Linked DNA regions of Homo sapiens. The protein of the gene in region 1 interacts with the protein of each later gene in a biochemical or structural test. Each region holds a gene or a part of one and is shown in the gene's direction. Other genes may lie near its edges.

What was found.
Region 2: the proteins of LRRK1 (region 1) and CPLX3 form a complex in vitro, tested with the Homo sapiens proteins (one large-scale study listed by BioGRID).
Region 3: the proteins of LRRK1 (region 1) and PDCD4 form a complex in vitro, tested with the Homo sapiens proteins (2 studies listed by BioGRID and IntAct, with this or other methods).

What each region holds. Positions count from the first base shown.
Region 1 is NC_000015.10:101,051,707-101,055,356, forward strand, and holds part of LRRK1 (leucine-rich repeat serine/threonine-protein kinase 1), read left to right. Parts: exon of another isoform or gene 1-4; coding exon 5-254; exon of another isoform or gene 255-683; intron 684-751; exon of another isoform or gene 752-1,215; coding exon 1,216-1,382; intron 1,383-1,516; coding exon 1,517-1,714; intron 1,715-3,239; coding exon 3,240-3,517; intron 3,518-3,650.
Region 2 is NC_000015.10:74,825,021-74,828,770, forward strand, and holds the start of CPLX3 (complexin-3), read left to right. Parts: upstream 1-1,606; 5' UTR 1,607-1,683; coding exon 1,684-1,847; intron 1,848-3,013; coding exon 3,014-3,101; intron 3,102-3,111; exon of another isoform or gene 3,112-3,750. Other genes in the region: LMAN1L (protein ERGIC-53-like precursor), read left to right, coding at 456-585.
Region 3 is NC_000010.11:110,878,402-110,882,051, forward strand, and holds part of PDCD4 (programmed cell death protein 4), read left to right. Parts: intron 1-2,831; coding exon 2,832-3,134; intron 3,135-3,650. UniProt on the Homo sapiens protein: Inhibits translation initiation and cap-dependent translation. May excert its function by hindering the interaction between EIF4A1 and EIF4G. Inhibits the helicase activity of EIF4A. Modulates the activation of JUN kinase.

The sequences.
Region 1 (3,650 bases):
TTAGCCCTGACAGCCACAGAGAGCGACGGGACGCCACTCATGGAGCAGTACGTGCCCTGCCCGGTCTGCGAGACAGCCTGGGCCCAGCACACGGACCCCAGTGAGAAATCAGAGGATGTGCAGTACTTCGACATGGAAGACTGTGTCCTGACGGCCATCGAGCGGGACTTCATCTCCTGCCCCAGACACCCGGACCTCCCCGTGCCGCTGCAGGAGCTGGTCCCTGAACTGTTCATGACCGACTTCCCGGCCAGGTATGCCCCGAAGGCCCCTCCCAGAACACAGTGCAGGTCACAGGGGGCGTTCCTCGCTGTGCAGTTGCCGAGTGATCTCCAGGAAGACCCCTCTGGGGCGGGCAGGTGCCCCGGCCATGGCTTCCCACCAATCTCAGTACCTTTTAGGTTCCCATCCTCGGCTGCCTGAAAGGAACCAGGCTGCCGGCTTTCCATTTTGGAGGCCTTGATAGGCCCAACTGGGAAGAGTGCTTTGCAAGTGCAGCCATCCTGCCTCCCCATACGGCTCCCCCTTCCCCTCGTAGCCAGAGCTGCTCTCTCCTGAGCTGCCTCTCCTTTCCACTCCTACCTCCCCACCAGCTCTAGGGCCAGCAGATAAGTGCAGCCAGTGCTCCTCAAGCATTCAGGAAGGGGAGAGAAGGGAGAGCTCCCACCCAGAGCCTTGTTTACCTTCTTTGTCAAACGCTGACTCCTGTCTGTAGCCCTAGCGCTGAGCTCCCACCCAGAGCCTCGTTTACCTTCTTTGTCAAACGCTGACTCCTGTCTGTAGCCCTAGCGCTGAGCCTTGGACCCCTCAAATCTGTTCTTAGAGTTTATTGTACCTATGCTAACCCAAGATCATAACTAGAGAGAGAATCGGGGAGGAAATAGGAAACGTCACCTTTCAGAAGAAAACTTCCAAAGGGGTCCTTTCTCTACGGCCACCACTTCTGTGGGGTTCACCCTGTGCCAGCCATCACCACCTCTGAGGCCGTTCCTGTCCTGAGAGCCCTCTGTACAGAGGAGACTGAGGCTTAGCAAGCCTGCATAACCTACCCAGGTGTGCTCACCCACAAGTGGCAGGGCCGGGGTGGCCCAGATCTGTCCAGCCTCACAGATGGCTTTGAACCATGACTCTCGGCCGTTGGGGCAAATGACCCAGCCCAGGACCCACCCGCATCAGGGCGGGGGGGATGTGGCTGATGCCGGGCGTGTGTGGCAGGCTCTTCCTGGAGAACAGCAAGCTGGAGCACAGCGAGGACGAGGGCAGCGTCCTGGGCCAGGGCGGCAGTGGCACCGTCATCTACCGGGCCCGGTACCAGGGCCAGCCTGTGGCCGTCAAGCGCTTCCACATCAAAAAATTCAAGAACTTTGCTAACGTACCGGCAGGTAAGCGGGTCCCAGGTTGGTGCTGTTTTTCTCAGACATATGCTGCCCGGGTCTAAGCTCTGTGCGGCCTTAGAGAGGCCTGAGGCTGCAGGCACCCCATGTCCTACTGGCTGACACTGCGCTGTCCCTGGCAGACACCATGCTGAGGCACCTGCGGGCCACCGATGCCATGAAGAACTTCTCCGAGTTCCGGCAGGAGGCCAGCATGCTGCACGCGCTGCAGCACCCCTGCATCGTGGCGCTCATCGGCATCAGCATCCACCCGCTCTGCTTCGCCCTGGAGCTCGCGCCGCTCAGCAGCCTCAACACCGTGCTGTCCGAGAACGCCAGAGGTACCGCGGCGCGCCGCCCCACCCGGCCCCGGAGACCGACAGAGCCCCGGGCGCCTCCTGCCTGGCACGGGGGGTAGAGCCTCAGGTGGCCTTGGCAAGCCCAGGGCACGCCCAACCCATGGCTCGTGTGACCATCCCCTGGCTGCGAGGCCAGGCTCCCCGCCAGGTCCAGTCACTAGGCAGAGCCTTGGCGAGGACGGGGGAGCGCACACTCTGGAGTCGGCTAAGACCAGGCTCTGCCGCGGTCCGGAAAGCCGCTGAGTTTATTTGCCTGTAAAAGGAGGATGGTAACAGGCCTCGCTGGGAGGGCACCGAGCACGGGAGCTGCATTGAATCACTTTCCCAACTGCACACGTACACGGCTGCTGAGACTCTGAGACCGCAGGGTCAGTGGGACCATATTTTAACATAAAATGTCGAAGTAATTTACCTTGAGAAAAGAGCAGCTAAACTCCAGAGTGGCCAGAGGGTGAAAGGTAGCTGTCTTTTGACTAAGGAAGAAGAAATGCTATGAAAATCAATCACTTCTGCCTCAATGGAAGATAATTTTTTAAACAGAATTCTTTACTTTTTTTTAATACAGGATCTCACTTTGTTGGCCAGGCTGGAGGACAGTGGTGCAATCTCAGCTCACTGCAGCTTTGACCTCCTGAACTCAAGCCATCCTCCCACCGCAACTTCCCGAGTAGCTACAAGCACACGCCACCACACCCAGCTAATTTGTTGTTGTTGTTTGTAGAGATGGCCTTTCACCCTGTTGCCCAGGTCGTTCTCGAACTGTGAGCTCAGTCGATCCCCCCACTTTAGCCTCCCAAAGTGCTGGAATCACCGGCATGAGCCACACGCCCAGCCAAACAAAATGCTTCTACTTGCCTCTCACCCCTTTACGTAGGACAGCCTTGACCTGAGGTGAACTCTAGAGATTTCGAACCCTTGCTCATTCAGCAAAATGCCAGCAATTCCAGGAATAAGATATCAGGAATGAAGCTACAGCGATGAGCATTTCTATCCTAAATACTGTTTCACTTAACCAGGCCATTCTCTGTCCTTTATGGCAGTCTGGTGAATAGTGAGAATGTGTCAATGGAATATAAAGTATCTAAGGGCCAGGCGCAGTGGCTCACATGTGTAATCCCAACACTTTGGGAGGCCCAGGCGGGCAGGTCGCTTAAAGCCAGGAATTCAAGACCAGCCTGGCCAACATGGTGAAACCCCATGTCTACTAAAAATACGAAAATTAGCCAGGCATGGTGGCACGCGCCTATAGTCCTAGCTACTCAACTTGGGAGGCTGAGGCAGGAGAACTGCTTGAACCCTGGAGGCAGAGGTTGCAGTGAGCCAAGACCATGCCACTGCACTCCAGCCTGGGTGATAGAGGGAGACTCTGTCTCAATAAAAGAAAAAAGAAAAAAAATCATAAAGTATCTAGGGAGATCGGAAGACAAAAAGACAGTTGTTATCATGATAATTTGATTCTATCAAAACTGAAATTTTGATACATTTGAAAATTGTTTTTCTTTGCAAGATTCTTCCTTTATACCCCTGGGACACATGCTCACCCAAAAAATAGCCTACCAGATCGCCTCGGGCCTGGCCTACCTGCACAAGAAAAACATCATCTTCTGTGACCTGAAGTCGGACAACATTCTGGTGTGGTCCCTTGACGTCAAGGAGCACATCAACATCAAGCTATCTGACTACGGGATTTCGAGGCAGTCATTCCATGAGGGCGCCCTAGGCGTGGAGGGCACTCCTGGCTACCAGGCCCCAGAGATCAGGCCTCGCATTGTATATGATGAGAAGGTACGTGCCTGGATCCCCTGGCCCAGCCCCACAGTGTAGGAGCCCAGCCCTCAGGCTAGCCGGGCAGTCCTGGAGGCACCTGAAGCTTCGGGGCTCAGCATCCCCAAAAGCACATTTTTCTCACTCTCCCTTG
Region 2 (3,750 bases), about 26 Mb from region 1:
AGTGAGAGGAGGTCACTAGTTTTGCTTGGTGTGTGTTTGCTGAATGAACGTGCACCGTTTAGAGATGTGGGGTGTGCTAAAGGCCTCAGCAATGAGACTGACAATCTTTGTTGGTGGAATTTCAAGACAAGAAGAGTCCGTGTGGGCTGGGATGGTCCTGGAGGAGGAGTAAAATGAGCTAAGCTTTAAAAAGCACAAGGTAGAAATGCTCACAGGCTTCAGCACATGCACAGGAGTGCAGTGGTGGCAATCAGCCTGGAGCCACTAGGACAGACCTTACATGCCCAGGGGGAAAGCGTGGACCATATGCAGCGGGCCAAAGGAGCCACAGAAAGTCCAAGAACAGCGGAGGTTGTGGTGCAGTGAGTGTAGCAAGGCAAGCATGAGAGTCCTGGTTTTTCAAAAGCCCATAAAGGAGAGACGCAAGTAACCTGTAACCTTCTCTCTGGCAGCAGGCAGGAGCTGAACAAGAGCCTTCAGGAGTGTCTGTCCACAGGCAGCCTTCCTCTGGGTCCTGCACCACACACCCCCAGGGCCCTGGGGATTCTGAGGAGGCAGCCTCTCCCTGCCAGCATGCCTGCCTGACCCACCTCAGAGCCTGCTTTGCATCACTGGGAAGCAGGCAGTGTCTTGGGTGGGGGCTTGGTCAGTATCCTCTCCGTCTGGGTGCCCAGCTCCCACGCACACCTGAGCTTTCGGCATGCTCCCACCTCGTTAAAGGTGATTTCCCTCTCCCCATGCTGTGATATGCTGGTCTTCTTTCCAGCCTCACCCTAATCTCTGTGAAGGCTTCCACCCCTTCTGAGTACCTGGCTGGGAGTGCGCTCCAAGCAGGCAAGGAGGCCAAGGCCTGGCTTAACCTCCAAAAGACCGGATACCCCACGGGCTTTGAACCCTCGACTATGGAGGGAAAGAGAGCCATGACTGTATATAATTCTGTCCTCAAACTCACCCATAACAGAGAGCAGTGTCTCCCAGTGTCCCTCCTGGCCCAGCTCAGCCAGCATCACTGAGCAGCTCTCTCCCTCCCCACTCCTAGCTGCTCCAGGGGCAGCAGGGGAGGCGCGTGACAGAGCAACCCTGAGAGGCCAACTCGTGGAACCATAACTGGGATTCCCGCTCGCGCCCTCAGGTCTCCCTCCCTTTTCCAGCGTCAAGCTCTCTGGGCAGCTGCTGGGTTCAGTGACTTGGGTGGGTGGGGAGAATGGGGGGCACCCAAGGCTGGGTTTTTACCCCTTGCTGCTACCTGGATCTCCCAGCTGAAATCCTAGTTATTAGTGGCCCAGGAGAGGAGAAAGTTGGAAGAGGCTATGGAACAGGGTTCCGGGAGTGTATGAGCTCAACCCCTCTCCCGGGAGAGCGACCCCACCACCGCAGGCCCTAATCCTCTGTCAGCAGTGCCCAGCGGAGCTCGGCGTTGAAGGAGGCACGTGGGGGAGGCGGGAGTGGGGAGCGGGCACGTGGTCCAGCCTTCTCAGCCCCGTGCTGCCCCCCGCCCCCAGTGAGGAGGGGTTTGGGGAGGTGGGGGCGGGCCCGGGCGGGGGCGGGCGGCGGGCGGTGCCAAGCGTGGGGCGCGGGCCCGCGGCGGGAGCTGTCCGCGAAACCTAGTGCTGAAGTAGGCGCGGACGTGCCCGGTGCCTGGCGCGTGGTAGCAGGCGCCCGGTGCCCCGGCCGGCGAAGACCATGGCGTTCATGGTGAAGACCATGGTGGGCGGCCAGCTGAAGAACCTCACTGGGAGCCTGGGAGGCGGCGAGGATAAGGGAGATGGGGACAAGTCGGCAGCCGAAGCTCAGGGCATGAGCCGGGAGGAGTACGAGGAGTATCAGAAGCAACTCGTGGAAGAGAAGTGAGTGGGATCCCTTCCTGGCTCCAACGACCTCCCCTCCCCACCCCCACAGCTGCTCAGTCCATCCCCGGGCCAGCCTCAGGTCCCAATCCCTTCTCCCCTACTTTCCTAGACACGGTAAGAGACCGGGAGGTGTCCTCTACACTGCCCCCAGACCCATCCTATCTGACACCCAAAACCCCGCTCCAGCATCATGCTCCGGCCAAGGGGGAGTGGGGGGAGGGGCGACCGGACGAGGGACCGACCGGAGCCTGGGACGAGGAAGGGGGTGCACGTGCGTTTCTGACGAAACGATAATCCCTTAATCCGATCTGGTCCCAGCCGCCTATGTCTTCCAACTGGGGCTCCTCTGAACTTGAGGCTCTGAAAAAAGTGGTGCAGCCGCTCAGAGTCGCGGAGACAGACCCTGAGATGGGGGCACTCACAAACATTGAGCACTTGTGTGCCCGCAGTGCTGGGACAGAGTTTGGGGCTGGACTCTGCTGCTAGGCTACTTGGGTTCAGAGCCTGGCTTTGCCTATTAGCTGGATAACTTTAGGCAAGTTACTTAACCTTTCTGTGCCTCTGTTTCCTTTTCTGGAAAGTGGGGATGGTAATCATAATACATGCCTTGTATATTTATGAAGATTAAATGCCAATGCATGTAAACTGTTTAGCACAGCACCTGGCACATGATAAAGTCTCATAAATGATAGCTATTATTTCGCTCAATCCTGATAACAGTTTTGTGAGTTGCAAAATTTTATCCCCATTTTACAGAAGAGGAAGGTAAGTGACTTACCTAAGGATATACCTAAAATGGTAGTGGAGCTGGGATGTGAACCCAAGTTTGGCCTGAATACTTTTCCCCACATGACATAGCTTGTCAGTGAGGGAACAGCAGACCAAGTTGGAGGCCATGAGGGACAAATAATTAGGATCTGCAGAGAGAGCCAGACAGACTGCCACCCTGGTTCCCTAGTTCCATCCAGTGGCAGAGACGACAAAGGGCACTGTGATGGGCAGAGGCAGCAGAAACCTGGATGTCCGGGTTGGAGCGCTTTTGCTACACACAGGGACCAATGCAGCAGCTGCTAGGACTCAGAGACCCCTTCTGTCCCTCCCTCGAAGACCTCAACCCCCTTCTCTCAGCCCTCGTGGTGACTCTGCCTCCGGTGACCCTGCAGGATGGAGCGGGATGCACAGTTCACACAGAGGAAGGCAGAGCGGGCCACACTGCGGAGCCACTTCCGAGACAAATACCGGCTACCCAAGGTAAGCTGGCCCCGGCTGTGAGGCACATCTGGGACCCTGAGCTCTGGGTTCTGGACTCCTTCGCCCCATTCTGGGCACCACAGCCCTCAGCTATGAGACTCACAGGGTATTTGGTTAGATCCTTCCTTCTCATTCATTTGTTCTTTTATTCATTCACTCACTCGTAGTTAAATCTGTGCCCACCAAGGGCCAGGGCTTTGTGCTGAGGGGACCCCAGTCCTCATGAGACTGACAGGTCTGTATTTCTGGAGCCAATCTAGGCCTCTTCTCTCCTCCACCCCCCATATCCCCACCAAGCCTGGGCCAGGCCTGGGCAGAGGAAGACACAGGGGAGGCAGAAATCAGTAGATTTGACTGCAGAGGTGAGTGTTCTGGGGGTTTCTGAACCTACTGAAGGGCAGAACTTACTTAAGGTGGGGGAGAGAAGCCCTGTGTGTGCCAAGTACTTGACCTTCATGTCCTCATCTAACCCCCAATAATGCTGCCAGGCAGCTATCACCCACAGCGACAAAAGATGAAACTGAGGCTAAGAGAAATGGAGGGACTTGGCTAAGATCATACAGCCAGTGAGCCATGGAGCTGGGACCAGCCCTCAAGCCGGTGAATATGAGCCTGCCTTTGCTCCAGGGCCCCAGGCTGCTTTCCAGAG
Region 3 (3,650 bases), on another chromosome or scaffold:
TTATTATAGTTCTGACTCCTGTGTCTTCTGGACCAGTTTTGTGGTTCACCTTAATGGCACAATGATGAAAGCACTATGTTACAGGTAGATGTTTAATGTTTTTCTCAACCATCCACTCTTACACGAAAATGTCATCTAATTTATGTGATCCTGATCTTTCTGTCCCCTTCCACTTAATCATTTTTGTTTATCTCTCTTTACATTCACGCCCTTGTTCGTCTCTTTAGCTGTCAATACTCTGCTGTATTCTAGTTTTGTATTTTCTGTAGTTATATGGGATTAAAAATGTGGGTTTGAATTCTAGCCATAATCCTTTCTAGATATGTAACTTCTTGTGAAACACATTCCTTCTGTAAAATGAGGATAAACAGTTTCTTTCTAGAGCTCTTGAAGCTTATAGACCACATATGTAAAGTGCCTTAGCTAATAGGTACCAGGTAGTGTGGAATCTAATAGGTACCAGGTAGTGTGGAACCTGGTATCTAATAGATGACAATAGTAATGGTAATGATGAAAGAAACAGTACTACGACTACTTCCACTAAGACTATAATTACTACTGATGGTTATGATGATGTCCCAAACACACCATCCTAACACCGGCTTCTTACCAGTTTGAAAACTTTTAAGGCATTGTTTGACTTCTCTTTAATCCTAGATACATTCTGCTTAAAAGTCCTTCATTATTTTCTTTAAAAGTGTAACATTATTATTTATCCCACAGTTACTACCCTTGCTCTTTACCAGTTAGCTTGTGACTGAATTACTGAAGCATTTTCTTAGCGGTTTCCTACTTTATACTTTCTCTTTTTGTAATATACTCAGTATTCTTCTGCCAAATGAATCCCTCCCATCTCTTCCCTATGATATCTAACTTAAGCTCTGACAATTTGAGTGTGGGAGTAGTTAGCAGTGATTCTGGTGAGGTAAGCAGGGGCAAGATCATAAAGGACCTTAAGTTACAAGGTAAAGAGTTTACATTTTGGCTGGGTGCGGTGGCTCACGCCTGTAATCCCAGCACTTTGGGAGGCCGACGTAGGTGGATCACGAGGTCAGGAGATCAAGACCATCCTGGCTAACACGGTGACCCCATCTGTACTAAAAACACAAAAAAATTAGCCAGGCGTAGTGGCAGGCATCTGTAGTCCCAGCTGGGGCAGGAGAATGGCGTGAACCCGGGAGGCAGAGCTTGCAGTGAGCTGAGATTGCACCACTGCACTCCAGCCTGGGTGACAGAGCGACACGCTGTCTCAAAAAAAAAAAAAAAAAAGTTTACATTTTTTGTGACATAATGGGACTACTTTTAAAGGATCTTCAGTGAGGGCATGCTTGAGAAAATCAGTCTTCATTCAGTATAGTTTGAAGACTGGAGGCAGGGAGACTACTTATGAGACTAGTGAAATAATTTGGCTCTAATTGATGATTTTGTTTAAAACAAAACATTCCTACCTTCCTAAGTATGTCAAGAATTGTAAAGATTTAAACACATGTATGCTTTTTATAGGTTGGTGAAAATTTTTGGTTTCAACATGTCTTAAAACATATTAAAGCCCATGCACATAGACCTGACATGTTATAATTATCTTTAGGCATATAGAAAATGATTTGAGTGATTCAGCTCTGATTTGCGTTAACAATAATGAACAAAACTGTGGCCCAGTGGTAGCTAATTCAGTAGCCTTTCTGACTTAAAGAGCTTTCAGGGCAAAGCCAAGTGCCTCCACTTGATCTCCATGGAATTTGAGTATGAAGGACACTCTGCTAGGTGATGGGGATACAAAGAAGGACATACAGTCTAGTTGTGGTTTCTCCTTTGAAGCTTATGACTTAGTTGGAAGAAAAAGACTGCTATATAAAAAGAAAGTGATTTCCATGACGTGTTGAATGAATAGTATGTGAGCAATTAGTGTTCCTGTACCTAGAGTTGTAAGGGAAGTTTTAATGCAGGGAGTAAGACTTGGGCTATATCCTAAAGGATTTTGATAACTGAAAATAACAGTGAGGGCGACATTCTACTGGGAACTCCAGTATGTTGATCTCTTTCAGAAGAATCAATTTTATATAGGCTGGAAGATTTACAGGATGGTAAGTAATAGGAGAAAAGTTTAGGGAGATGAATTAGGACTTTGAGATGTTGGCTTTTCTTGAAAGCAAACTTTGTCTTGAGGCAGTAAAGCATCAGCAGTTCAGCTCAACAATCATATGCGATTATTTGCTAAATGCCTTTCATTCTCTTTTGGATTACTAATAGTTCTTAAGTGTTTATACCTAGTTATGGGACGTTTGGCAAATCATTTAAACATTCTCAGCCTTAGTTTCCTTATCTGTCTTCAATGTTATAATAATTAACTGCCAAACTTGTGCATAAATAAATGATAGAGTGTCTAGCACAGTGCCTAATAGTAGGCATTCTATAAATATTAGTTTATCTCTCTTCTCAAGATGCTTTGTCTTTTCTTAATATCTCCAATTAGCTCATAAAAGTCTAAGGGTTTTATATTTGGTGTTGCTGTTAGCATAGATTTTATGATCTAAACGTGAAATAACATGCTTCTTTTGGTAAAAACAAACAAATTTGGTTTGTTTTTGGTAAGAAACAAACATGCTTTGTTAAAATTCAGTGCCTTGGTTTACTTTCCTTGATAATGTGAAAAGTAATCTTATTTAGTTGTTTATTAGATTGAAGTAGATGAAATTCCCAATATGTGACTGTAATTTACCTACAAAAATGGTAATGTCATGTGATTCAACCTAATCTAACTTACCACTATATCTATAAAACAGTAGATACTTAAAATACTTAGAATTTTTTTCTTCATTTTTCTCTTTAAGATCCTGATAACTTAAGTGACTCTCTCTTTTCCGGTGATGAAGAAAATGCTGGGACTGAGGAAATAAAGAATGAAATAAATGGAAATTGGATTTCAGCATCCTCCATTAACGAAGCTAGAATTAATGCCAAGGCAAAAAGGCGACTAAGGAAAAACTCATCCCGGGACTCTGGCAGAGGCGATTCGGTCAGCGACAGTGGGAGTGACGCCCTTAGAAGTGGATTAACTGTGCCAACCAGTCCAAAGGGAAGGTTGCTGGATAGGCGATCCAGATCTGGGAAAGGAAGGGGACTACCAAAGAAAGGTTGGTATATATCATGTCCAACAAATGGAAGATAAACAAGTGGAAAAAAATTGTCTGGTTCTTGTACTACACTTTCCTTGTTCTAGGAATGAGAGAGATTCAAAAAGTGAAAATGTAAGGCTTTACAGTTTGTATATATTTTTACTTAGTAATAATGTGAGAACCATCTCACTTTTTCTTTAGGTTGATGTTTTTTCTTGTTTGAGTAGATTTAATTTTCTTGAGCAGAATGTTAACGATTTATTTCCAGCAAAATATACACTGATGTTTTTCACTGTTACGAGTTTTACGTATATTCTCTAAGTTTGAAAGGAGTCAGAAATCCATCATACTTATTTAATATAATTATGTCCATTACTACTACTAATAAATATACATTTGATTGATAACGTCTAGATCTGAATTTTAATGTTTTCCTAGATCTCACGGTGAGTTCTCTTTAGCTCTTTATTTTGGGTTCTGTAGTAGATTGGTCTGTTTCACTGCTGTTTCTCTAGTACCCGAAATAGTGACTAG